Homo sapiens: one gene and its partners. The protein of the gene in region 4 interacts with the protein of the main gene of each other region in a pairwise test. Each region holds a gene or a part of one and is shown on either strand. Other genes may lie near its edges. The genes, in order: PRKCA, YWHAG, HTT, ZNF444, WFS1, GFAP and LMNA.

Evidence for each region.
Region 1: the proteins of ZNF444 (region 4) and PRKCA interact in binary tests that used the Homo sapiens proteins (3 or more experiments, as listed by UniProt).
Region 2: the proteins of ZNF444 (region 4) and YWHAG interact in binary tests that used the Homo sapiens proteins (3 or more experiments, as listed by UniProt).
Region 3: the proteins of ZNF444 (region 4) and HTT interact in binary tests that used the Homo sapiens proteins (3 or more experiments, as listed by UniProt).
Region 5: the proteins of ZNF444 (region 4) and WFS1 interact in binary tests that used the Homo sapiens proteins (3 or more experiments, as listed by UniProt).
Region 6: the proteins of ZNF444 (region 4) and GFAP interact in binary tests that used the Homo sapiens proteins (3 or more experiments, as listed by UniProt).
Region 7: the proteins of ZNF444 (region 4) and LMNA interact in binary tests that used the Homo sapiens proteins (3 or more experiments, as listed by UniProt).

What each region holds. Positions count from the first base shown.
Region 1 is NC_000017.11:66,736,113-66,739,612, forward strand, and holds part of PRKCA (protein kinase C alpha type), read left to right. Parts: intron 1-2,651; coding exon 2,652-2,743; intron 2,744-3,500. UniProt on the Homo sapiens protein: Calcium-activated, phospholipid- and diacylglycerol (DAG)-dependent serine/threonine-protein kinase that is involved in positive and negative regulation of cell proliferation, apoptosis, differentiation, migration and adhesion, tumorigenesis, cardiac hypertrophy, angiogenesis, platelet function and inflammation, by directly phosphorylating targets such as RAF1, BCL2, CSPG4, TNNT2/CTNT, or activating signaling cascade involving MAPK1/3 (ERK1/2) and RAP1GAP.
Region 2 is NC_000007.14:76,331,492-76,334,991, forward strand, and holds part of YWHAG (14-3-3 protein gamma), read right to left. Parts: intron 1-3,500. UniProt on the Homo sapiens protein: Adapter protein implicated in the regulation of a large spectrum of both general and specialized signaling pathways. Binds to a large number of partners, usually by recognition of a phosphoserine or phosphothreonine motif.
Region 3 is NC_000004.12:3,207,181-3,210,680, reverse strand, and holds part of HTT (huntingtin), read right to left. Parts: intron 3,401-3,500; coding exon 3,324-3,400; intron 1,909-3,323; coding exon 1,770-1,908; intron 855-1,769; coding exon 732-854; intron 1-731.
Region 4 is NC_000019.10:56,144,287-56,147,786, reverse strand, and holds part of ZNF444 (zinc finger protein 444), read right to left. Parts: exon of another isoform or gene 1,938-3,500; intron 1,541-1,937; 5' UTR 1,367-1,540; intron 898-1,366; 5' UTR 876-897; coding exon 579-875; intron 1-578. UniProt on the Homo sapiens protein: Transcriptional regulator. Binds to the 5'-flanking critical region of the SCARF1 promoter.
Region 5 is NC_000004.12:6,293,850-6,297,349, forward strand, and holds part of WFS1 (wolframin), read left to right. Parts: intron 1-1,191; coding exon 1,192-1,340; intron 1,341-3,500. UniProt on the Homo sapiens protein: Participates in the regulation of cellular Ca(2+) homeostasis, at least partly, by modulating the filling state of the endoplasmic reticulum Ca(2+) store.
Region 6 is NC_000017.11:44,902,659-44,905,500, forward strand, and holds the end of GFAP (glial fibrillary acidic protein), read right to left. Parts: 3' UTR 2,414-2,842; coding exon of another isoform or gene 1,172-2,413; 3' UTR 501-1,171; downstream 1-500. Other genes in the region: DNAAF19 (dynein axonemal assembly factor 19), read left to right, coding at 1-159; Ig-like V-type domain-containing protein FAM187A precursor, read left to right, coding at 1,172-2,413.
Region 7 is NC_000001.11:156,124,711-156,128,210, reverse strand, and holds part of LMNA (lamin), read right to left. Parts: intron 2,042-3,500; exon of another isoform or gene 2,008-2,041; coding exon of another isoform or gene 1,988-2,007; intron 1,657-1,987; exon of another isoform or gene 1,560-1,656; intron 1,476-1,559; exon of another isoform or gene 1,409-1,475; coding exon of another isoform or gene 1,296-1,408; exon of another isoform or gene 1,262-1,295; intron 1-1,261.

The DNA of each region.
Region 1 (3,500 bases), on a different chromosome or scaffold from region 4:
CTCAAACGATCCCCCTACGTTGGCCTCCTAAAGTGCTGGGACTACAGGTGTGAGCCACTGTGCCTGGCCTTAATTCAGCAAACATTTCCATGAAAGGTTTTCTTCATGCCTGGTACTGTGCTCAGACTTTGGGATACAAAAACAAACAAACAAAAAAACTCACAGTCTTGGCTTTTTTTTTTTGAGACGGAGTCACTCTCTCTTCCCCAGGCTGGAGTGCAATGGTGCGATCTCTGCTCAATGCAACCTCCACCTCCCAGGCTCAAGGGATTCTCCTGCCTCAGCCTCTCGAGTAGCTGGGATTACAGGCCGCTGCCACCACGCCCGGCTAATTTTTGTATTTTTAGTAGAGATGGGGTTTCACCATGTTGGCCAGGCCGGTCTTGAACTTCTGACCTCAGGTGATCCACCCGCCTCGGCCTCCCAAAGTGCTGGGATTACAGGCATGAGCCACCGCACCTGGCCACAGTCTTGGCTTTTTAAGACCACTGGTTCCACTGCCAAACATGGCATTGGAGCATAAGGAGACTTGATTTTGTAAAAGAGCATGTTCTTGTTCAATGCCACACAACAGGGACTGGCAAACTGTGGCCTATTCTCTATGGCTTGTGAGTTTAGGAAAGGTCACAACAAGGAAATCCAAAGAGTCATATATCGTGACACGTGAAAATTAGGTCAAATTTTAAATTTCAGCATCCATAAACAGCTGTTTTGGGACATCACCACACTCCTTCGTGTACCTGTCATCTACAGCTGCTTTTGCACCATGAAGGCAGAGTTGAGTTGCTGCAAGAGACACTCACAGCCTAAAATATTAATACATACTGTCTGGCCCTTTGTGGAAAAAGTTTGCTGAGCTCTGTCGTAAAGTAAAACTAAACAGAGGACAAAAAAGGACATTCCAAAGCACTAATCAGTCCGTTGCAGGGCTTGCAAGTGGCCTACAAGAAACAGACATGGCCGGGCGCGGTGGCTCACGCCTGTAATCCCAGCACTGTGGGAGGCCAAGGCGGGCAGATCACGAGATCAGGAGATCGAGACCATCCTGGCTAACACGGTGAAACCCCGTCTCTACTAAATATACAAAAAAAAAAAAAAAAATTAGCCGGGCGTGGTGGCGGGCGCCTGTAGTCCCAGCTACTCGGGAGGCTGAGGCAGGAGAATGGCGTGAACCCGGGAGGTGGAGCTTGCAGTGAGCCGAGATGGCGCCACTGCACTCCAGCCTGGGCAACAGAGCAAGACTCTGTCTTAAAAAGAAAAAAAAGAAACATAGATGTTTAGATGCCACCATAGTGAGACGTTGCCAAAGCTGGTCTTTCCACTCCTCAGAGGCTGCCCATTTAAAATATGACTCCATAATCAGTAGCTGTAATTGATGCGATTATTACTATTTTCAACTGCCCATTGATCAGAGATTGACTTTCTGTCTTATGCCTCTTTGAAAACTCTTGGGAGGAACCTCTCAGTGCTTTTGTGTTTTAGAATCTCAAAATGGCTTTGCAGCCACCCGGAGCCTCTGGGTGTGTAGCAGTGGCCGCGGAGTCAGGCGCCGGCCACTACGTGTCAGCCTAGCGCTGGCGGCACGTTGAGCTTCCTGCTCCCAGCCGTTCCCACTGACTCTGAATCAAGTCACGCCAGGGAGAGATGAGAGCAGCATGCTCGGAAGAGACAACCACAGCTCTGAATCCCAGCCCAGAGCCTGTAACCCTGGTTACCCTGATTAAGCTCTGGAAAGCTACAAAACAAAGAAATGAAGATGAAATTAAAGTTCATAACAGGAAAGCTAGAGACTGGGGCTCCCAGGGTTGCTTCCTGGCTATTAGCACCAGCTTCATCATTTTTTTCTCCCTGTGCAGCACTTTAATGTTTAATATCCTCTGTGAAATGGGGATGTTTTCTAGCAGAGAGCAGAGGTCATTATTTCACTGTTAAACCCCTCCATCTTCCTATCTGTCCCAGCATAATGTCCTCAGGAATATGCAGATTTATTTGGGTCTATGATACATGCCCATCATGGGGCCAACACTTAGCCTACCAGTGACAGAGAAAATAGAAAAACAGTGTTTGGGCATATTACAGATGCAAAAGAACATTTGATTAGCATCTCCATCTAGAGTCCCCTGTCCCATGTCCAGTAAATATATTGAGCATGTGTAATCCTAAGCCTGAGAGATGTGTTTTCAGGAGTATCCATTTAAACACGATACTACATTAGTATGGCACGCCTCCCAGACACTGCAAACCAGCCTTTAAACATTTGGACCATGGAGAAGCACTAGTTAAAATGAAATAATTGCCTTATGTGGATTCCTCACACCATCCCTTACTTAGAAATTTATTATATGTATAGGAAGATAGGGAAGAATGTTCAAGGCCGTTACTATAATAGCATATGTAACAGGAAGGCACGTTGATGGAGAGCCATTATTTCAGGGTTATGTAATGACTTTATACTTCCCAAGGCCCTCATGCAGTAGGGTTTATTACTTATTCTTTCTTTGGAAAAAAATGTGAAAGAGCTCTAAACTGAGCACATCTGCCCATGCAGTCCCCATTTAACTAATGAGAAAGCAAAACACAACCTGTGAAGAGCAAAGGAAGCCACTTGGCTGGGGAGGAGCCCTGCTCATGTGTTGAACCTTGGTCTGCAGGATCGGCTGTACTTCGTCATGGAATATGTCAACGGTGGGGACCTCATGTACCACATTCAGCAAGTAGGAAAATTTAAGGAACCACAAGCAGTGTGAGTATTATTTTTTAAGTCCTTTAATTTGAACAACCAAGTCCTACCAACTGGAAACTTCCTTTTTTCCCCCCCGCTTGAGATTGGGGGTCTCACTCTGTCACTCAGGCTTTGCCTCCCAGGCTCGGGTGATTCTCCCACCTCAGCCTCCTGAGTAGCTGGGACTACAGGCACACACCACCATGCCTGGCTAATTTTCTGTTTTTGGTAGAGATGGGGTTTCACCATCTTGCCCAGGCTGGTCCCGAACTCCTGAGCTCAAGCTGTCTGCCCACCTCGGCCTCCCAAAGTGCGGGGATTACAGGCGTGAGTGAGCCACCATGCCCAGCCCCAACTGGGAACTTCTGCTGGGTGAAATGGGAAAGTGGGATTCTGCCCAGTTTTAGGTTGAATGTTATAAACCTAAACATGGGAGGCGGAGGGCAGATATACTGGTAGGATCCATCTAAGATGGTTCCTAAGGAGCAGTTTATTCTATTTCCAGTATTTCCAATAAACTGGAGATGTTGCCATATCCCATCATCACCCAGGTCCACCCTTGTTGATGGAGTTATTCTTATCTGTTGAACAAATGGTTATCACACACCTGCTCTGCACCAGGCACTGGGGTTGCGAAAGGAACGAGGTGCTCCCTTTCCAGAGGGAGTTTACACTCCACCCTGGAGGTGGAGAAGTCACCTAACAATTAATAGTGCGTTGCTGTAACTTTAGAGACTTGCGCAGGATACCAGGATAACACGTAAGCCCCTAAAAATCG
Region 2 (3,500 bases), on a different chromosome or scaffold from region 4:
AATGCAGCCCAACACAAATTCGTAAACTCTATTAAAACACTGAGAATTCTTTTTGCGATTTTTTTTTTTTTTTTAGCTCATCAACTATTGTTAGTGTTAGTGTATTTTATGTGTGGCCCAAGGGAATGTGGCCCAGGGAAGCCAAAAGACTGGACACCCCTGTACTAAACTCCTGGGGCATGGGGGAACTGAACTACCAGGAGACTTTTTTTTCTATGTTTGAATCATTATGTTCAGTATGTTGGCCCATGCCTGTAATCCCAGTGCTTTGAGACACCAGGTGGGGAGGACTGCTTGAGGCCAGGAGTTCAAGACCAGCCTGGCCAACATAACAAGGCCCCATCTCAAAAAAAAAAAAATTTTTTTTCTTAAATTATAAACGGGGGGTATGCTTGGCAAAAGTGATTACAGTCATTACTTCAAGCAGCATCTACTCAGAGATAATTAAATCAAAACATAAACCAAATCATGCTTATTAGTTTATGGCAGGCAATTCATTTTCTGAATGAATGATCAGCAAGTGCTACACGCTCAAATATTCTCTAAACTGATTAGTGGTGTTGTTAAAGTTAACATTTTCCTAGACATTACTGATGCTCTGTTTTAATGCTGGACAACGTTACTCCTACCAGCCGTGCCCTCAGTGAAACAGACTCAAAAGAGGGGAAGAATAGGGGGTGGGTACTACTTGAGTTCAGAGCAGAAGGAAACCAGGAAAGAGATGCTTTGCTCCACCACCTCTTGTTCCCGGCACTTCTGCAAACACTCCTCCTGCATGAATAAACACAGGCACCTCGTGTCTCATTCTGCACTGACGATCTGTCATCCAGCAGACCGCTGTCACTCATGCTGAATTCTGATGTGTCCACAAATAACGGAAGATTGGGCTTTTCCCAGCTCCATCATTCGCTAAGCAATCTTGGGGACAAGCCGCTTCATTTCTCTGGGCTTTGGTTTTCTTATCTGCAAAATGGGGATTTCTGCTTCTTTCATAAGGTAATATACAGGTATATCAGACAAATAAGAAAGTCTTTTTTTGTTCTTTTTGAGACATGGTCTTACTCTGTTTCCCAAGCTGAAGTGCAGAGGCATGATCACACCTCACTGCAGCCTCAAACTACTGGGCTCAAGCAATCCTCCCACCTCAATCTCCAGAGTACCTGGGACTACAGGTGTGCACCACCATGCATGGCTGATTTCTTTTTTTTTTTTTTTTGGAGACAGAGTTTCAAAAAGACCTGGTCTCACTCTGTTGCCCAGGCTGGAGTGCAATGGCATGATGTCGGCTCACTGCAACCTCCCCCCAAGTTCAAGCGATTCTCCTGCCTCAGCCTCCCGAGTAGCTGGGATTACAGGCGTGTGCCACCATGCCTGGCTAGTTTTTGTATTTTTAGTAGAGACAGCGTTTTGCCATGTTGGCCAGGATGGTCTCAAACTCCTGGCCTCAAGTGATCCACCCGCCTCAGTCTATGGCTGATTTATTTATTTCTTTATTTAGAGATGGGGTCTCACTATATCAATCCGCTGGAAGTGCAGTGGCACTATCTTGGCTCACTGCAACCTCAGCCTCCCAGGGCTTCAAGCAATCCTACCTTAGCCTCCTGAGTGGCTGGGACTAAGGCACATGCCACCACACCCAGCTAATTTTTGTATTTTTCTGTAGAGACAAGGTCTTGCCATGTTGCCCAGGCTGGCCTTGAACTCCTGGCCTCAAGTGATCCACCCACCTTAGCCTCCCAAAGTGTTAGGATTACAGGTGTGAGCCACTGCATCCAGCCATTTAAAAATTTTTAGTAGAGACAAGGTCTCACTATGTTGCCCAGGCTGGTCTTGAACCCTTAGTTCAAGTGATCCTCCCACCTTGGCCGCTCAGAGTGCTGGGATTACAGGTGACAGCCATTGTGCCCAGCAAAGTCTTCTTGAAAAAGTAAAATGCTACAGAAACATGAGGAACTACTTTTAAGAATACCCTGAATAATTTTCCTTCATTTTAGTTCTCACCACAGGGGATGTCTACATTTCCTAACGATCTCCCAGCTCATCTTCCTGTATCGAGTGTCTCTTCTCCGTTTCATCCTCTTCTCTATATTAAGCGGAAACTGCCTTAGCTGCCTCACATCGCTTCCTTTCCATAAACCCTAGTTCCATACAGCCTGAAAAAAAACTGCCCAGACTTGGCTTTGGAAGGAGCTGAGCCCTTGGGCGCTGCTGCCACCCATCTCTGGCATACTTTACTGAGTGTGCGAATGCTGAAGACAAACCGCCCCGCGGTGCAGCCCTCATGACTGCCTCCAGTGCAAGGAGAGGCCAGCGTGCCGAAGGCCACAAAGATCAAGTTCTGGCCTTTCCCCTAAATCATGTTGTCCTTATTTCAAGGGCCAGGAGCTATTTAAAGCTCAAATTATCTCACCAGTCCTGGGGGCACTCCTCCTGCCACAAATGAAGTCTCCCAGCAGTGCCCAGAGAGGCAATCTGTACTTATGTAAAGTCTGCCTAGCTGTCCCCAGACACATTGGAACAAGGAGATTATGAAATGCCAGGATCACCTTTGGATACAGTAGCTCGACCACATTTGGAACACGCCCAGATGTTCCCTGCCAGTGAAAAACTAAGTTAGAGGGGAAACCCTTCAGCTCTAAAAAGTCTAAAGAAAAGTTGTTCTGAACACCTTAAATCAAAATTTTTAAAAATCCTTTATCCTTTAGATCATAATTACTTGCATAAGAATCTGTTATTTTTAAATTAAAATAAGAGATCCCCACCATATTAGTTTTAAAGGTCAACAGATAACCTCTTAAAAGAACAAGTTATTCTAATAGTGTCTAAAATGATTTAATCAAGACAGAATGACAGAATGACTATTCAATGTGGGAAGATACGGGATCTTGTATCATTTGGGAAGGGAGGTAACATTTTTCAAAACAGTCATTAAATTTGTTGTTGTTGTTTAAACAGAGACAGGGTCTCACTCTGTTGCCCTGGCTGGAGTACAGTGGTGCAATCACAGCTCACTGCAGCCACGCCACAAACTCCTCTGCCTCAGCCTCCAGAGAAGCTGGGACTACAGGCATCTACCACCACGCCCCCTAATTTTTGTATTTTTTGTAGGGACCAGGGTCACCCTATGTTGTCCAGGCTGGTTTCGAACTCCTGAGCACAAGTGATCCTCCAGCCTTGGCCTCCTAAAGTTCTGGGATTACAAACATGAGCCATTCTGCCTAACCTTCTTCTTCTTTAAAAAAAAAAAGAAAGAAAGAAAGAAAAGAAAAGAAATGGGGTCTCACTCTGTTGCCCAGGCTGGAGAGAAATGGCGTGATCACAGCTCACTGCAGCCTCAACTTCTCAGGCTCAGGTGATCCTCCCACCTCAGCCTCCCATCACACCCTGGTTAATAAATTGTTTCTACGAATGCAACACTTGTAAACATGGTCCCCAAAATTTACTGTCATGGCTGTTGGAAAATGTAGAAAGTTTCAGTTTTTATTCCCCAGAGTTGTATG
Region 3 (3,500 bases), on a different chromosome or scaffold from region 4:
CCGTCCTAGTAGGTCTGAGAAGAAGCCCTGCTTGGGCCATGGCTGCACCATACCCAAGAGGTGGCCCCCCCACTGCTCACAGGACCTGCCCACGGGTGAGGGACAGGGACACCAAGGCTTTGCATGGCCTCCTAGCTCTGCGCAGGGTGCCCTCTGACATCTGGGGTTGGGGGGTGAAGAACCTCACTACATCTAACAGAGGTGTGAGTAGAGGAAATCTCGCTGCATCCAAGGGTCTCTTTTACGACTAAAGATCAACTTCCAAGACACTAGAAACAAGTTATTGACGTCACGCATTACGACACTGTGTTGAAGTCTACGGCAAATACGCAACCTTGACTTCCATTCTGTCTTGGCCATGGAGCTTAGATGATAACATCCTGTGTTTGTTCCTCCAGTGGAGGCCAGATAGTTCTCATCCCAAACCATACACCCAGCCTTGGGGCCAGCTGGATTTCAAAACAACACCTCCGTGGATTCTAATGTGGCTGAAACAATGTGCTTTTCTGTCTCGATCAGCATAACCCCCATGTCCCGACCCCATCTGAAATGGAGTCCTCCCCACTTCCCGGCCCCATTCAGAGTGGAGTCTCTCCGACATCCCGTCCCTGCCCAGACTGGAGTCCCCAACATGTGTTGTCAACAAGTGGGTCACATGATGATGAGACAAATCCCACTTGGAAGTCACAAGAAAAGCTGAGGATTCCTTGCCTCCACTGCTCCCCCCGTACCGAGTTCATCATGAAGGCATTCATATCTTCAGCAGGAATCCGATTCACCAGCTCTGCACCTTCCAGCAGTGCAGAATCTGACCTGGTCCAACACTGGGATTTGACAAGATGAACGTACCAGTCCTGGGAAGAAAAAAATGGATAAGGGGAACATGATGGGCGGCGTTCAAGGGGACTTCACATCCCTGGAGCTACAGGCCTAGGCCAGTGCTTGGGAACACCGCACTAGGCTGAGAGGGCTGCCGGCCGGCAGGCTGTGGCTATACGGCTCACCACACCACAGGTTTTCCCCTTTGGACTTCTGTTACCTGCCTGGGCACCCTCACAGCCTCCCCCTTCACCTGGTGAACTTCCAATAGGCCTTCCAAATATAGCTAAACCACTAAGGGTTAGCGGCCCCTTTGCCATCCTCTCCTGGGTTGTCTGCTTTACTCATCTCTCCCCAGCAACCAGGGCAGGGCAGGTGCTTAGCGAATAGAGCCTAAGAAGGCAGGACTGAACCTTCGCTTTCTTATACTTGGGCTGCTGGTTTTTGAAATCTAAATTCATATTCATAAGCTGAACTTTGTCCAGGAAAGTAGAGTACCAAGGCTCTACCAAGGCTCTACCAAGGCTCCAGGTGGTCCCTAACCATGAGGTATGAGCAGTGGAGGTGCTGACAACATACCAGAATGGCTGGCAGTGGCAGTGCAACTCACAGGTGGCCAGAAGGTATGAGGAGATGGAGGGAGGCTAACGGCATTGACATGTGCTTGAAGGCCTGTGCAGTCAGGGGCCTGCAGGCCACGGCCGACTATTCCTTGATTCACCCACTAACTACTCACCCCACACTCCTACCAAAAGGGTCCCACATCAGCACTGCTTGGCTCCCTCAGACCTTGATGGCCCCCCACGTCTCTAACCACAGCTTCACTGAGCCGAGCCGAGCGCCAGAACTCCTTGGGTCCACGGCACCTCCTCTGCACTCTCTGTATCTGCCACAGGTGACAGAGGCACTCAGCGCCCTGTGCCTCCCATGCAGACACGCTGGACACTTACTTTGTCCGGACTCACTGTTTCCAGTGACACGTGCCCATCCCCGTCCAGCGGGTGGGAAGAGACTGGAGGAGAGGGACTAAGTGAGTCTTGCATGGTGGAGAGACGAAACCTGTCCAGCAGGGAATAGAGCCTTTGGTGTCTAAAATACAAATAAAAATGAAATTACAGTATAATTTGTTTTTTTTTTTTTTTAGTCTTAGTCTAAACTCTGCACACTAGGATTCTAGAAATATACACTCTAAGGAGATGCACTATTAGTGGCTTCTTAAAGGAAAATACACTTGTTTAAACCTTTTTCTTCACAGCTATCTTCTCATCAATACTCAAACAGGTCATGATACAAATGCAGGCCCTAGTTTACTTTTAAGTATCACAGTTTGTACTCCATTAATATTTTCCAGAAATTTCATTTATACTCAAACACTGCAACAGGCAATACACAGTATAAAAGCTAATAAAGGCTTTCTTAATAAATGTAAAACAGATCATCTAAGACTCAAATGCACAAATTCCACTATCAAATATCCCAGTAAGACAACTGATAGGAATTCATGGTCATTTCAAAATAAAATCACCTCATCTGGCACAAGATATTTATAATCTTTTAATCTCCCTCATCTGGACTGAAGACTAAGTCTAGGGTCAAAAAGTAATAATAGTTTATCTCCCGCCATCTGCTATGAGAGTGACAACTTCATAATGCAAATTACAAAAGAGCTTGGCCCTACAGACTGAAAAATCATCCCAAACTGTCCACCTAATTGTGCCCAATCCCATTTAAAAACACCATCAACAAGGTACTCTAAAGACTGAAAAGCATAATAGACAAGGTACTCTAAAGACTGAAAAGCATAATAATTTTTGTGTGTTTTTCCTTTTTTGCAGTTTCAGCTCAAAGTACACAGCATGATAATTATATTCTCCTTCTCTGCTGTCTCTCTCTCCCTCTCACACACACAATCCCTGCCCCCCACCCCGCCCCGCAAGGGAAGGAAAAAGGTAAAAGTTTAACTTATTCTGCAGTCATGGAAATACACTCACATAGGAGATGTAGGGATTTCTGACAAAGGCTTCTCAAAGACTTTGCAAACACAACTAAATGATTAAATGCTTTGAAGACATAAAATGGCAACAGGATGCAGATGTAAGTCCTGCATGCCAAGGATTGAGTAATGTCTCTCAGATTTGCCAACTCTTGTTTAGCAATTAGATGACATGCTTTGATTTTGCTAAGATAAACCTGATAACCTATTTTCCCACTCATCACAGGACAGTGAATACAGGCATTCTAAATGCTACCTCTCAAACAGCCACCAGGAGTGCAAACTGCCTCCACTCACGTCACAGACGTGATCCTGCCGGTCATCCTTTACTCTTTAGAAAGTGAGATCTGGTTGTTTTAAAAGTAGGAAGGTTCTATTATGGCACTTCTGCAGTAAACCCACCTATAAGGCACATCGATTTCTTGTCCTGTGAATTTATTCCCGTACAAATCTATATCCTTTATATCCTGGGTTGTCCTAACACAAGGACGACCTGTGTTTCCAGCATTACCTCTGAGCGAGCCCGCTGCTCTGAAGGTATTCCTGGATTCTGTTGAGTTCTTCCATTGGCAACTGGGCCATGCTGCTCTAATAGACAAAAACACATTAGTGTGTTTGTAACACCTAACAACCCAAAATAACCTCATGCTCATTTAAAAAGGATGAACTGATGTGTACAGTTCATCCT
Region 4 (3,500 bases):
CCTCACGCATGATAAGGAGGGTCTGCCTGCCCCGGGGGACTCAGGCCAGCCCAAAAGCAAGATGAATTTGGGGTAGAGTTTGGACCAGGGGGTATCCTTGACTTTCAGGGGGCGGGAGGCTGAGGTCAGCCACACAGAACGGGGAGGAGTCCCCAGTAAGAACCCAGGACACCACGGTCTGAGGAGAATTCCTGGCCGGCAAGACCCCCTGCGTGCGGGCGGGGTGCGGGGAGAGGACAGCTGGTAACTGCGCTCCCTGGAGCCTTCGTGGCCTTCTTCCCAGCTGCTTCCAGCACGTCCTTCTCTGATAAGCCGTGACCGTGAACACGGCTGTGAGTCCTAGAGAACTCGCAAGTATGCCAGGGTCTTGGGGCCCTCCTGACTTGCAGCTGGTGTGGGGATGGAGGGTGCCGCACGTGGACTGTCCCTCCACGCTGTACCGCAGCCTGTACCGCAGCCTCCCCACCGCGAGTCACACTGGTTTTCAGGGGTTCAGTGGTGCTCCTCCCTGGGCTTCCTGGTGGCTTCCCTGGCACCTTCCCCTCTCCCTTCCCCGCTTGCAGTCCCGCCAGGCTCACCCAGAGCTCCTCCAGCAGGGCCACCGCCTCCTCCCCGCTCTGCGGCTGCCGGCTGCACACCCAGGCCTGCGTGTCGGCGGGCAGCGCGCTCAGGAACTGTTCCAGCACCAGCAGCTCCAACATCTGCTCCTTGGTGTGCACCTCGGGCCGCAGCCAGTCCCGGCACAGGGCGCGGAGCAGCCCCAGCGCCTCCCGCGGGCCCGGCGCGTCGCCCAGGTGGAAGCGGCGGAAGCGGTGCCACGGGGAGTCCAGCGCCAGGCCCTCGGCCTCCTGCTTCACGGGCACCGCCACCTCCATGGGGCCTCCCGGACCGCAGCGCCTGCAGGGAACAAGCCGGTGAGACCCCTGCCCGCCGAGACCCTGCCCGCGGTGCCCAGACTCACAATGGGACCAACGCTCTTTTTTTTTACTTTTTATTTTTTGAGACGGAGTTTCGCTCTTTCCCCCAGGTTGGAGTGCAGTGGCGGATCTCAGCTTACTGCAACCTCAGCTCCCGGGTTCAGGCGATTCTCCTGCCTTGGCTTCCTGAGTAGCGGGAATTACAGGCATCCGCCACCACGCCTGCTAATTTTTATATTTTTAGTAGAGATGGGGTTTCACCATGTTGGCCAGGCTGATCTCAAACTCCTGACCCCAGGTGATCCGCCCACCTCGGCCTCCCAAAGTGCTGGGAATTACAGGCGTGAGCCACTGCACCCGGCCTGGGACCCGCGCTTCTGAGCCGCCCACATACCCAGGATAGGCCCGGCCTCTGTGCCTCGGTTTCCCCTGTAAGATAAAGCACTCACCTGCTCTGCCTGGCCCAGGGGGCAAAGAGGTCTCTGTGAGGGGGCAGCGCTCACTCGGGTGGTGAGGAAAGGGTGTGCCCTTCCTGGGATCCCAGGGAGTCAAGTCCAGGCTGGGTCCTGCCCTGGGCCCCTGGCCTCTGTACCTCAGTCCTGCAGCTCCTCCCGCAGCCTGTCCTGAGGATTCAACCAGAAAACACAGAAAGAGCTTGCAGCAGGCCTGGCAGCAGCAGGTCACCATCAGCACCACCCTCACTGGACTTGTGGGGCCGTGCACCCCACACCCTGGGAGCAGACACTTTGCAGCCTACTCAGAAGCCACCCCAACTAACTGCTGTGGCCTGAATTTGTCTCCCAAAATTCACATGTGGAAGCTCTCACCCCAGTGTGACCGTATTTGGAGACGAAGCTTTTAACTGGTAATGAAAGTTAACTGAGGTCACAAGGGCTGGGCCTAATAGGGCTGTGGCCTTATAAGAGAAAGGGACACCGGGACTCTGTCCATCTCTGCCAGCAGGAGCACACAGCAAGGAGGCCACCTGCAGCCTGGCAGAGGCCCTCACCAGGAACTGACCATGATGGCATTCTGAGCTTCCCGCTCCCAGAACTGAGAAATAAGCTCATAGCAGTTCAGTCCACGGTGCTCCGCTATGACAGCTATGACGGCCTGTCCCAGTCCCTTCCGCTGGGAATTTGCGATCTGGGTGCCAGCACTGTCGGGTTCTGGTGAGCACCTCTTCCAGGCTGCCGACGGCCTCCTTTTGTGTCCTCCCATGGCGTAGAATAGAGAGAGGCAGCGAGCTCTCCTGTCTCTATTTTTTTTTTTAATTTTTGTTTTGAGATGGAGTCTCGCTCTGTTGCCCAGGATGGAGTGCAATGGTGCGATCTTGGTTCACTGCAACCTCCGCCTCCCAGGGTCAAGCGATTCTCCTGCCTCATCCTCCCAAGTAGCTGGGATTATAGACGTGCGTTACCACGTCCGGATAATTTTTGTATTTTTAGTAGAGACGGGGTTTCGCCAGGTTGGCCAGACTGGTCTCAAACTCCTGACCTCAGGTGATCCACCTGCCTTGGCCTCCGAAAGTGCTGGGATTACCGGCATGAGCCACCACGCCCAGCCGTGATTGCCATTTTTAAATGCATTAATAAATACTTTACAATTTTCTGTTTTGGTTTCTACTATGATACGTAACAATAGATATGACTCCCATCAATAAAAGCATGTTAGGGTCTTCAGTAATTTTGAAGGCAGAAAGGAGTCCTGACTTCAAAGCATTTGAGAAATGGTGGTCTCTGAGCTGGTGGGCCGAATCTGGCCTGCAGCCTGTTTTACTTAAGTCTCACTGGCGCACATCCACGCCCACTTGCTCACGCGCTGTCCACGGCCGCCTTGGAGCTACCGAGTGGCTGTGACAGGGCCTGGGTGGCCTGTAAGGCTGTCCACAGAGCCAAAGATAGTCACTCGCTGGCTCTTTACAGGACAAGACTGCCGGCCCCTGACCTCAAGGACACTGGAAGATCAAGACAGAAGGGACCCTGATGACCCCATGGGGCTCAGGCGCCAGCCCGCCCCAGAACACCTCTGGAGTATTATGGGAGAAAAGAATCAGTTCTGTCCTATGTGGAGCCCTGTACTTGGGGTCTCTTCATTACAGCAGCTTGGACTGTATCATAAGGAACTATATAGCAAAGTCCCCTTGACCACAAGGCAGAGGGTGGGCACATAATCTGCTTCTAGCCGGTGAGGTCTGAGAGGAAGTCTGTGTTCAGACAATTTTCCTCCTGATACAACCAAAGCCTGGGCTCCTGACCGCCATGTCACTAACCACAAACGTCATCTCATTGCTGGGACGGCTGCCACAAGACCCGTGTATGCCTACTCTCGCCACCTAGAGCCAAATCACTCCACAGTGATCACAAAAACTTTTTCACTGTAAATCCCTGTCACTTCCTTGCTCAGTGCCCTCCAACTGCTTCCTGTGATGCTCAAAACCCAAATTGCTTACTATGGCCATGAGACCATGCAGCCCAGCCCTACTTTCTCATCTCTGCCTGCTCCCAGATTCTCTATACTCCAGCCACAATGGATCCCTTTTTTTCTTTTTTCTTTTTTTTAAGACAGGGTCTCTCTCTGTCG
Region 5 (3,500 bases), on a different chromosome or scaffold from region 4:
GCAAGCCCCCAGCCCGCCCAGGCTGCATCCAGCCCGTGCTCCTTCCACATCTCCTGTACCTGGCTGTCCCATGGTCACCTCACAGCTCAGTCTACAGTGAGCTACTGAGGCCTGTGCTACCTGCCACTTGTGTGGGCCCCCCCAAGGCTGCCTCATCTCTTTGCTGCAGCTACACCTGGGTGCTGCCCCGACTCCTCTCCTCTTGCACACACAGCTGATCCATTAGGAGGTCTGTCAGCGCCCACTATCACGGCTGCCATCTTGGATGCAGCCTGCCTCCTCCCTAGGGTTTCTGCAGCACCCTGGCTTGTCTCCCTCTGCCCTGCCCCAGCATGGTCCTTTCTTTCCCATCCTTCCCCTGGAGGCCCTCCTGGTCACCATCTCACCACGGCAACTGGGGTCCTTCAGGGGCCTCATTCCCTCCTAGGGGATCATGTTGGATAGAGGGGTCAGTGGGCACGTAGCTCTCGCGGATCACGTTGGATGGAGGGATCAGTGGGCACGTAGCAGGCTCTTGGTGGAAGATGTTGGATGGAGGGGTAAGTCGGCCCATGGCAGGACGCATGTTGAATGGACGGGTTAGCAGGCATGTAGTAGGCCCATGGCAGACACTTGTTGGATGGAGGTGTCAGCAGGCACATAGTAGGTGTGTGGCAGATCATGTTGGATGGAGCGGTTTAGCAGGTGCACAGTAGGCCCTGGGTGGATCACGTTGAATGGAGGGGTTGGGGGCGCAGATCATGTTCGATGGAGCGGTTGGCAGGGTACTGCCCTACAGGGCGGCTTGTCACCCGTGCTGTGAGAAGCCCCACGCTGGCTGAAGAGGAGGGTGTCAGCATGCACTGGAGGTGCATGTTGTAAGGCTTGGCAGGTGAACTGGGTGAAAGGTGTGGGTGAGTGGCCCCAGGCATAAGGAGCTAGGCAGAGAGGGACACTTGGGGTGGGGGACAGCACACCCAGGGGCCGGGGGCCAGGAGTGGAGGCTGGCACTTGGCAAACCTGCCCCCTTCCTCCTCACCCAGCCTGGTCCTCAACCCTCAGGCCGCCCAGGGAAGGGTTTCCTCCACCTGAACCCACTCAGCTCCTTTCTTAGCTTGGCCCCACGCCACCGTCCCCAGCCCATTGCTCTGTGTGAGGGTGGCAGTGGGGCTGCAGTGTGGGGCGCCCATGCTGTTTTCTCTCATGCTTCAGCCAAGAACTACATCGCGCTGGATGACTTTGTGGAGATCACTAAGAAGTACGCCAAGGGCGTCATCCCCAGCAGCCTGTTCCTGCAGGACGACGAAGATGATGACGAGCTGGCGGGGAAGAGCCCTGAGGACCTGCCACTGCGTCTGAAGGTGAGTGACCAAGACCCCGGTCAGGCCGGAGCCTGCCTCCCAAGGACTCGCGCACCTCAGGCAGGGCACCTTCCAGGAAGCTGCAGGTGGGGAGGTTCGCGCCTAACAAAGAGTGTCTTACAGCCGTGCCGCTGGTACCTTTGGGTCATCATCTATCGTCATAAGGATGTGTCCTCGGGAGAGAGGCCTTTCTTTTCTGCGCCGTCAGGCTCAGAAACCAGGGGCGGTGTTGGGCAGGAGTGCTAGGATGGCAAGCAAGGGGCCCCTGGGTCTTTCTGTGCAGTGTAGGGGGCAGTGGGGCGGGCTGGACGCAGACTTTCATCTAGACTTCATCACTTAGCAGATTTCTCCATGTATGGTCCAGAGTGGAGGCCAGTGCCTTGAAGATGCCTTCCCCGAAAACAAAGTGCCGTGTCCGTCAGGCCAGGGAGGACGTGCAGAGGCGCCTACTGCCCCTGGATCTGCAAGGGCTCAGGGAGCGAGGCCAGTGTGGGAGCGTGGTGGGTGACACTTGTGCAGGGTGCCATTGGGCACACCTGGAGGACATGAGCAGCTTTGGCGGCAGGAGGAAAGCGGGGAGCGGGGAGCGGGAAGCCCAGCAGTGCGGGCCCTACTCCTGGCCTGACAGCTTGTTTTCTTGGCCATGTGGCCCTATGGCCTCTCACAGAGTTGCTCACAGTTCAGCTCGCATGGTTGAATTAGATGTGTGCCTGTCTCACTCTGCAGAGAACACCAGGATTTCCAGAAGCTTGGCCTCCTGACCCAGGATCCCCAAGCTGAGGCCAGCACAGGGGGCCCCAGCAGATGATTGTCACAGAGGCTGCGGGCAGTATCATGCAGGCACCCTGGGGTTCTGTCTTCTGAACTGACTGAGAACCTGGAGGAACTGCCATCATTGTATTCAGATGGGCGCGTGAGTCAGGGCCAGGACCAGGAGATGGTTGGGCCACCAACTGTCAGGCAGGCAGCAGGCTGAAAGGTCACCGTCCTCGAGCCAGGGAGAAGGTCAGAGTAGGCCCGCCCTCCGGTGGGGGGGAAGAGCAGGAACCCAGGTGCTGCAGGAGCAGCTTCAGCCCAAAGAGCAGCAGGCACAGCAGCCCTGCTGCAGGGACTCGGAGCCAGACAGGTCTGAGTGTGAGCCCCCCGAGTGCCCAGAGCTGCGAGTCCTTTAGGGTGGCAGGTGGAAGGCTCTGCTCCTCCCACTTGGGACAGGCTGTATGTCCAGGGTATGACACCGACCGGTCTGCAGAGGTTCTGAGACATGGGCCAGGATGGCCAAGAACTTGAACCAAGGGAGCACATGGTTTTTACTGATGGTCTGCTCAGAGCTGGCCCTAGGCAAGCATATTCACAGATTGGGTGCCATCATCTCCTTACTAATGGGAGATGAGGAAGCTGGGGTGCTGGCATGGTTTTGGCAAAGACACTCCCGAAATGAGAGTGAGGGTCACAGGTGAACGGGTTAACTTGGAGAAGACCCTTGGGCCAGGCGGCCATGGCCCAGGTGTCCCAGTTTATGCCATCTGGTGTAAGTACTATTATAATAATGCCTCCTTGCATATGCGTCCTGTTCGGAAAATTATGTCACCTAGTTATGGATGGTGAGTCTAGTGTTGTGTAGCATCTGAAAATCCTATTTATTTATGTTACTTAATGACAGGGTCTCGTTCTGTTGCACAGGCTGGAGTGCAGTGGCACGGTCACAGCTCACTGCAGCCTCAACGTGCCAAACTCAAGTGATCCTCCCACCTCAGCCTCCCAAATAGCTGGACTACAGGCATGTGCCACCACACCCAGCTGATTTTTTTGAAAACATTTTGTAGCGATGGGGGTCTCACTATTGTTATCTACGCTGGTCTCAAACTCCTGGGTCAAGCGAGCCTCCCACTTTGGCCTCCCACACTGCTGGGATTCAGGCGTGAGACACTGTATCCAGCCTGAAAGTCCTTTTTAGAAGGGAGAGATTTAAGCTGTTTTGACAAGAAGTAAACAAGACTCTGTTTCCCTTTAGTTTTGGATGCTGTCAGAGCACTTCGATTCCTTTGCAGTTTGTCTTCTTAGAAGTCTCTTGTGAGGGAGGCAATGAATCGTCACAAGCGTCTCCCAGGGCTGAGAGCTGTCCCACCTTTTAGTAGCCTTTTGTAGAACAAGGAGAGGTCT
Region 6 (2,842 bases), on a different chromosome or scaffold from region 4:
TGCAAGGGCTTGTTTCAGAAGCTGCAAGCCATGGGCAACCCCAGATCCGTGAAGGAGGGGCTCAGCTGGGAGGAGCAGGGTCTGGAGGAGCAGTCTGGTGGGCTCCAGGAGGAGGAGAGGCTCCTGCAGGAGCTGCTGGAGCTGTACCAGGTTGACTGATGCGGCAAGCTACCCTCAGAGGTCCCAGTGGTCACTGGAGGCAGTTTTTTGGTTGTTGTCTTGGGGGTTCTGCAGGACCATAATAAGAAACCCACACCTGGTTCCCTTCTCAACTTGGAATTTTCAGAGCAAAAACAGGAATCAAGTCTTCCCCACTTCTCCAGTCCCTCAGTGTCTCGCTGTTTTGAACTGTGTGTATCCATGGACAGTCAAGAGCTCAGGAAGTTGAGAGCGGTTTTGTTTCCCACCCTTAGAGTCTGCCAAGCCTCTAGCCCACTGGCCTTGAGAGATGAGTGTGTGCCCAACCAAATGCTGGCTATACCAGTTACAGCCTCCACTCATAAAAGGGAAAAAGCAAAATCTTTATGGTAAACAAACACTGATCTCCACAGCTCTTAACAAGAATGTTTATAGCCCCAAACCAATGAATGGACATGTAATCAACAAATGATCAAATACTACATCATTTGAGGTGTTGAATTTTCCCCTAGAGACTCAGTTCTTGTGCAGGTTGGGCCTGGGAAAGTCCCAAGCCATCAGCTCAGGTCCAGCCAGCCTCCCGGATGGCCAGATATGCAGGAGGGTGGGTTTCCTTCATCCCCCAGGTTGATGAAAGACTTTTCCACCAGGCTGGCAGGGCAGGGCCTGGAGCACTGAGGCAGAGATCTCCCTGCCCGAGCACCTCGGCCCGCCCTTCTCATTCCGGTTTCCTTTGACCCATTCTTGGGTGAGCGCCAGTGTTCTAGAAAGGGGAGTAAAGGCCAGGTTCTAGAATGGCTTTCCCCCCCCACCCTGAGATCAGGTCTGGAATGTTAGAAGGGCATCTTGTACATCCACTGGGAATAAATTGCCTTGCACTTGGCGGCTTCCTCTGCAGATTGTTGCTGCTTTTCCTGGCTGCATAATCCTTTCCTCATCTAGAGGCTTCCGCTTAGCAGAGCTTTCTAGGAGCCCTATGAGCCTTTAATGCCCTGGTTTTGCCCTGCCCCTCTGACCCCTGCCTCCTTCAGGTATGCACCTGGCCCTCACCACTGTGCTCCTGTGGGCATGGGGGCTCCAGGCCTTTGAAATTGTGGAGAAGGAAAACATTTTTCAGAGGACCCCCTGCCCTGCTTTCCTGATGTTTGAAAATGCAGCCTACCTGGCCGACATGAGCTTTGAGCTTCCCTGTCACTGCAAACCCGAAGAGGTGCCAGCTGTAGTCTGGTTCTACCAAAAGCACCTAGGTAGCAGCCACACCAAAGTGCTGACGGACTTTGATGGGCGGGTGCTGACGGAGGCAGCCCAGGTACGTGTGGGCAGCGACATGCTGACCCGCTTCAGCATCCGCATGTTCAGCTTGTTGGTTTTCAGGGCTCAGTCTGAGGACTCAGGCCTGTACTTCTGCGGCACCCGCAAGGGGGACTACTTTTACGCCTACGATGTGGACATCCAGAACAGTGAGGGAATGGTGGCCACTTTCCAGGACAAGGGCCAGGAGCCCTTTGCAGATGAATACTATGGGCACCTCCATGTCTTCACCACCTTCTGGGAATGGACCCCCTGTGACCGCTGCGGAGTGCGTGGGGAGCAGTGGCGCATCGGCCTCTGCTACCTGCAGAGCCCAGACCTCTCCCCACGCTACCTCAAGGCCGTGCCCGATGTGGTGTCTTGTGGCTCAAGGGCTGTGCCAAGGAAGCTGCGGACCAAGGCCAGGGACCACACGCCTGAGGTGCTGGTTCGGAGCTGCTTAGTACCCTGTGAGAAGACAAAGACCATCCGGGAGGGCGTGCTGGCCATCATTAACTATGTGTCCAAAGTGGGCAGCCGGCCCTGGGTGCCCCAGGTGCCCATTCAGTTCCACCAGCAGAGACTGGGCCATGGACTCATCATCTCCTGTCCTGGGGCCCGGCCAGAGCATGCAGTGGCCTGGGACAAAGACCGCCAGCACCTCTACCGCACACAGTACCTGAAGGGTGTCAACAGGTCCATGAGGGTGTTCATTGACCACGGCAACCAGCTCCACATCCGCTTCACCCAGCTGGATGACCGGGGCATCTACTATTGCTGGAGGCAGGGTGTGCTAGTTGCTGGCTTCCGGCTGGGTGTGACATCTCATGGGCACTACCCAGCCTCGTTCTCAGATCCTGAGACTCGCTCGGCTGTGGAGCTCACCCTGATAGGCTACCTGCTCATCACAGCAGTCTTTGTCACCATTCACTTCTGTCGTTGCTGCTGCTACTTATTTCACTGTTGTCCCAGCTTCTCCCCCTAGGAGCTCTCTTCAGCTCTGAAGACCAGTTGTCCTTCAATGTGTTTGTTAAATGATACCAGATGTCTCTGGGTGGGTACCCTGGGTTGGGACAGGTGGTAGGAACATGTGGACAAATCTGTTACAGCCTGCTCCCCATTTTCATGGGCAGGTCTGGGACCTGATCTGAGAAGTGGAGGGGCCTGAGGCTGGTGGGAGATTGGGGACTGAGCTCAGGATGGAAGTAGGGCACATGTGTTTCCTGACTTCACATTTAGGTCAGAGAAGGAAAGTGTGAACTCAGATTTATCCAGTGGTAAACACTGATCAGTGTTGAATCATGTTTGAGCTGCTTTGCTTTCTTGCCTATGAAGATTGTGCTGGTTGAGTTGCAGGTAGCAGGGAGAGGAAGGAAGAAAAGAGTGGAGGGAGCTGGTGTATGTCCTCTTTGGC
Region 7 (3,500 bases), on a different chromosome or scaffold from region 4:
ATATAGAGCTTATTAGGTACCAAGCACTGCTCTAAATATTATGTTAACTCACGTCATCTTCACAGCTACCCTATGCGATAGGTGCTATTCCTATGCAATTGAGGAAATAGGCACAGAAAGCTATATCTAGGGTCCCGCAGCAAGTAGATAGGGGAGCTGGAAATCCATGCTGTACCACTTTGGCACAAGCCACAGTATATGGTCTCCAAGGAAAGTAAGGGGGCTGGCTGAGTGTGGTGGCTCACACCTGTAATCCCAGCACTTTGGGAGGCCAAGGCAGGTGGATCACTTGAGGCCAGGAGTTCGAGACCAGCCTGCCAACATGGTGAAACTCTGACTCTATCAAAAATACAAAAATTAGTCGGGCAAGGTGGTGCACGTCCATAGTCCCAGCAACTTGGGAGGCTGAGACACGAGAATTGCTTGAGCCTGGGAGGCGGAGATTGTAGTGAGTTGAGATTGTACCACTGTACTCCAGCCTGGGTGACAGAGTGAGACTCTATCTCAAAAAAAAAAAAAAAAAATTTAGCTGGGTACGGTGGTGTGCACCTGTAGTCCCAGCTACTGAGGAGGCTGAGGTAGGAGGATCACTTGAACTTGGGAGGCGGAGGTTGCAGTGAGCCGAGATTGTGCCACTGCACTACAGCATGGGTGACAGAGCGAGACTCCATCTCAAAAAAAAAAAAAAAAAAAAAAAAAAACAGTAAGGGGGTTATTTGTCTTTCCCTGGTGGAGGTTTTGACTAGCACTGCAAAGAGAGGAGATTAAAGGACTAAGACACACCCTGCAGATGAGAAAAACCACGAGCAGAGAGGGAAGTGAGGAAGAACCTTTGTGGTTTTCTTAGGCACGGGGAGCTCCCATCTGCGGGGAAGAAGCCACTATCACCCATGGGCTCATGACTCAGACCTTGGGAGCTCTGTGGCCAGGGAGCCACACGCACACCCCAAGAGATGACTAGGGGTACAGTAGAGCCCAGTGTCTCTCCTCCCTCCTCCCTGCCCCCGCCCCCAAGTGCCATTTCCTTCCTAGGAGGGGTCCTCAGACCTAGCAGGGACCAAAGTAGACCCTAGCCAGGCATTCGGTCCCAGGGTGGTGGTGCAGCCCACTCCACTGGGGGTTGGCATCAGGAAAGCTGAGCACACGCTGAGTGCCGTCCCCGTGCTGGGTTGGCAGGGAGGACAGGGTGGGGCAGGCCAGAGGAGCTGGGAAGGGTGGGAACCTGGGCCCCTCAGGTGACTCATGCTCAGGCACACAATACCCGGGCAGGGGTCGGGAAATCCTCTAGTGCTCACAGGGGAGACCCTGGCTTCGCCCGTGTCCTGCCCCAGGCCGGGTGCTGTGCCAGCAGAGTGCCAGTCCTTTCCCTTGCATCCTCCAGGTTCCCCAAGCACAGGAGTGGCTGCATCCCAGTGGCCTCTTGAGGCGAGAAGGGCTGGGCATCCTGTTTCTAACTCTTCCCATCACTGGCAAATCTGATCTCAGAAAGAGGGAAGAGAGGGGGTGGGGAGGGGAACAGAGAGGAAAAGAATAAGGTAGAAATGAGAGTTGGCACTTGCAAATGTGACCCAAGGCAGGGGTCTGAAGAGCTGTGCCTGGTGGGACAAGGAAGTCCGGCTCCCCAGCTGCAGCAGGCCCGGGCCCTTGGGGCTGTTTGGGGAAGAAAGGCACCAGCACAGCAAAGGGGCTAGGTGGGCACCGGGCCAGGCGCTGACCCACCCTCTGAGTCACCCTGCTCAGCCCAACTCTGATGCCAGATATGGAAGCCAGGGCCGGCCACAGGCCTGTTTGGGCCCGGTTGCTGGGGGCAACAGGCTAGGCCCGGAGGGAGAGGCCTCCGTTTCCTCTCCCAATCTGGGGGAGAAGCAAGAGGGACAGACACTGTAGCTAAAAATAACAAGTGGGAGGGGAAGACAAAGGGGAGGTGGAGGAGCTGGCCCAGCCCTGCAGGGACTCCTTAGACCCACTCCTCAGCAGCCCTGCTCACCAGCCCTCAGAGTTCCCCATTGCCAGGCAGCACACAGGAAGGGAGCAGAAGAGCAGAGGGTCTCCCAGCCCCTGGGCATTTCCTGTCTCCCAGGAACATCGCCCCCTGTGGCCGGGTGGGTACAGGGAGTCCGCCTGGTGGCAAATGCTCTCCTGTATCCTCCTGGGCATCTAATTTGTTTAATTTTAATTTAAAATTTTTAATTGTTTAATTTTAAAATTTTTCATTTATTATTATTACTATTATTATTATTTTGAGGTGGAGTCTCATTCTGTCGCCCAGGTGATCTCACTGCAACCTTCACCTCCCAGGTTCAAGTGATTCTCCTGCTTCTCAGCCTCCCGAGTAGCTGGATTACAGGCCTGCACCACCATGCCTAGCTAATTTTTCTATTTTTAGTAGAGACGGAGTTTTGCCATGTTGGCCAGGCTGGTCTCGGACTCCTGACCTCAGGTGATCCACCCGCCTCCACCTCCCAAAATGCTGGGATTACAGTCATGAGCCACCGCGCCCAGCCCCTATTATTATTATTTTTGAGACAGAGTCTCACTGTGTTGCCCAGGCTAGAGTAGAGTGGCGCGATCTCGGCTCCCTGCAACCTCCACCTCCCAGGTTCAAGCAATTCTTGTGCCTCAGCCTCCAGAGTAGCTGGGATTACAGGCGCCTGCCACCACACCCAGCTAATTTTTGGCATTTTTAGTAGAGATAGGGTTTCGCCATGTTGGCCAGGCTGGTCTTGAACTCCTGACCTCACGTGATCCTCCTGCATCAGCCTCCCAAAGTCCTGGGATTACAGGCGTGAGCCACCACACCCAGCCCCTCCTGGACACCTAGACCTCTGCCCAGGCTGACTTCCCGCCATGTGACAGGGCGTCTTCTGCTGCCACCCCAAGCCACTCCTACCACCCCTCCTTTTGTTCCAGCAACTCCTCCTACTGCAATATATCCTCCTTCTCTCTGTCCCTCCCTCCCATTCACCCAAAACCTCCCTACCCCTCAGCCTACTTGAGCCTGTCTCAGCTCTGCCCTGCTGATTTCAGCCAGTGTTCTACCTGTTGGGTCGTGGGGCTTTTTCTGTGTGTCCCACAAATACCCGGAGACTAGACGGTTCACAGGCTCAAGGCTTCTAGAGGAACCTTCTCTTGAACCAACTCCTATACTTTTACAGGGGGAAACTAAAGCCTGGAGACGGGTAGGCTCAGGCACTAAAAACCTGCCCCCAGGTCACCTGAGGACACTCACAGCAGATTGGTGCAAAACATAGAAAATGGCACGATACACACAGACACTGCAGAGAATAACACAGAGAGACCCAGTAAGACAGTCTGGGAAGCGTGTCTGCCTCTGTCTCGCTTGCTGGGAGATACCCCAGTCAGAGAGTGATACGGAGGCCTAGTGAAAGTGCCACTCCCACCCACCCTCAAATATACACATACTCACACCTTTGTGTGCGGCCAATCATGAGGTTTGATAGCCCCTACCTCCCCCCCAACCCGGCAAAGTAACCACTGCT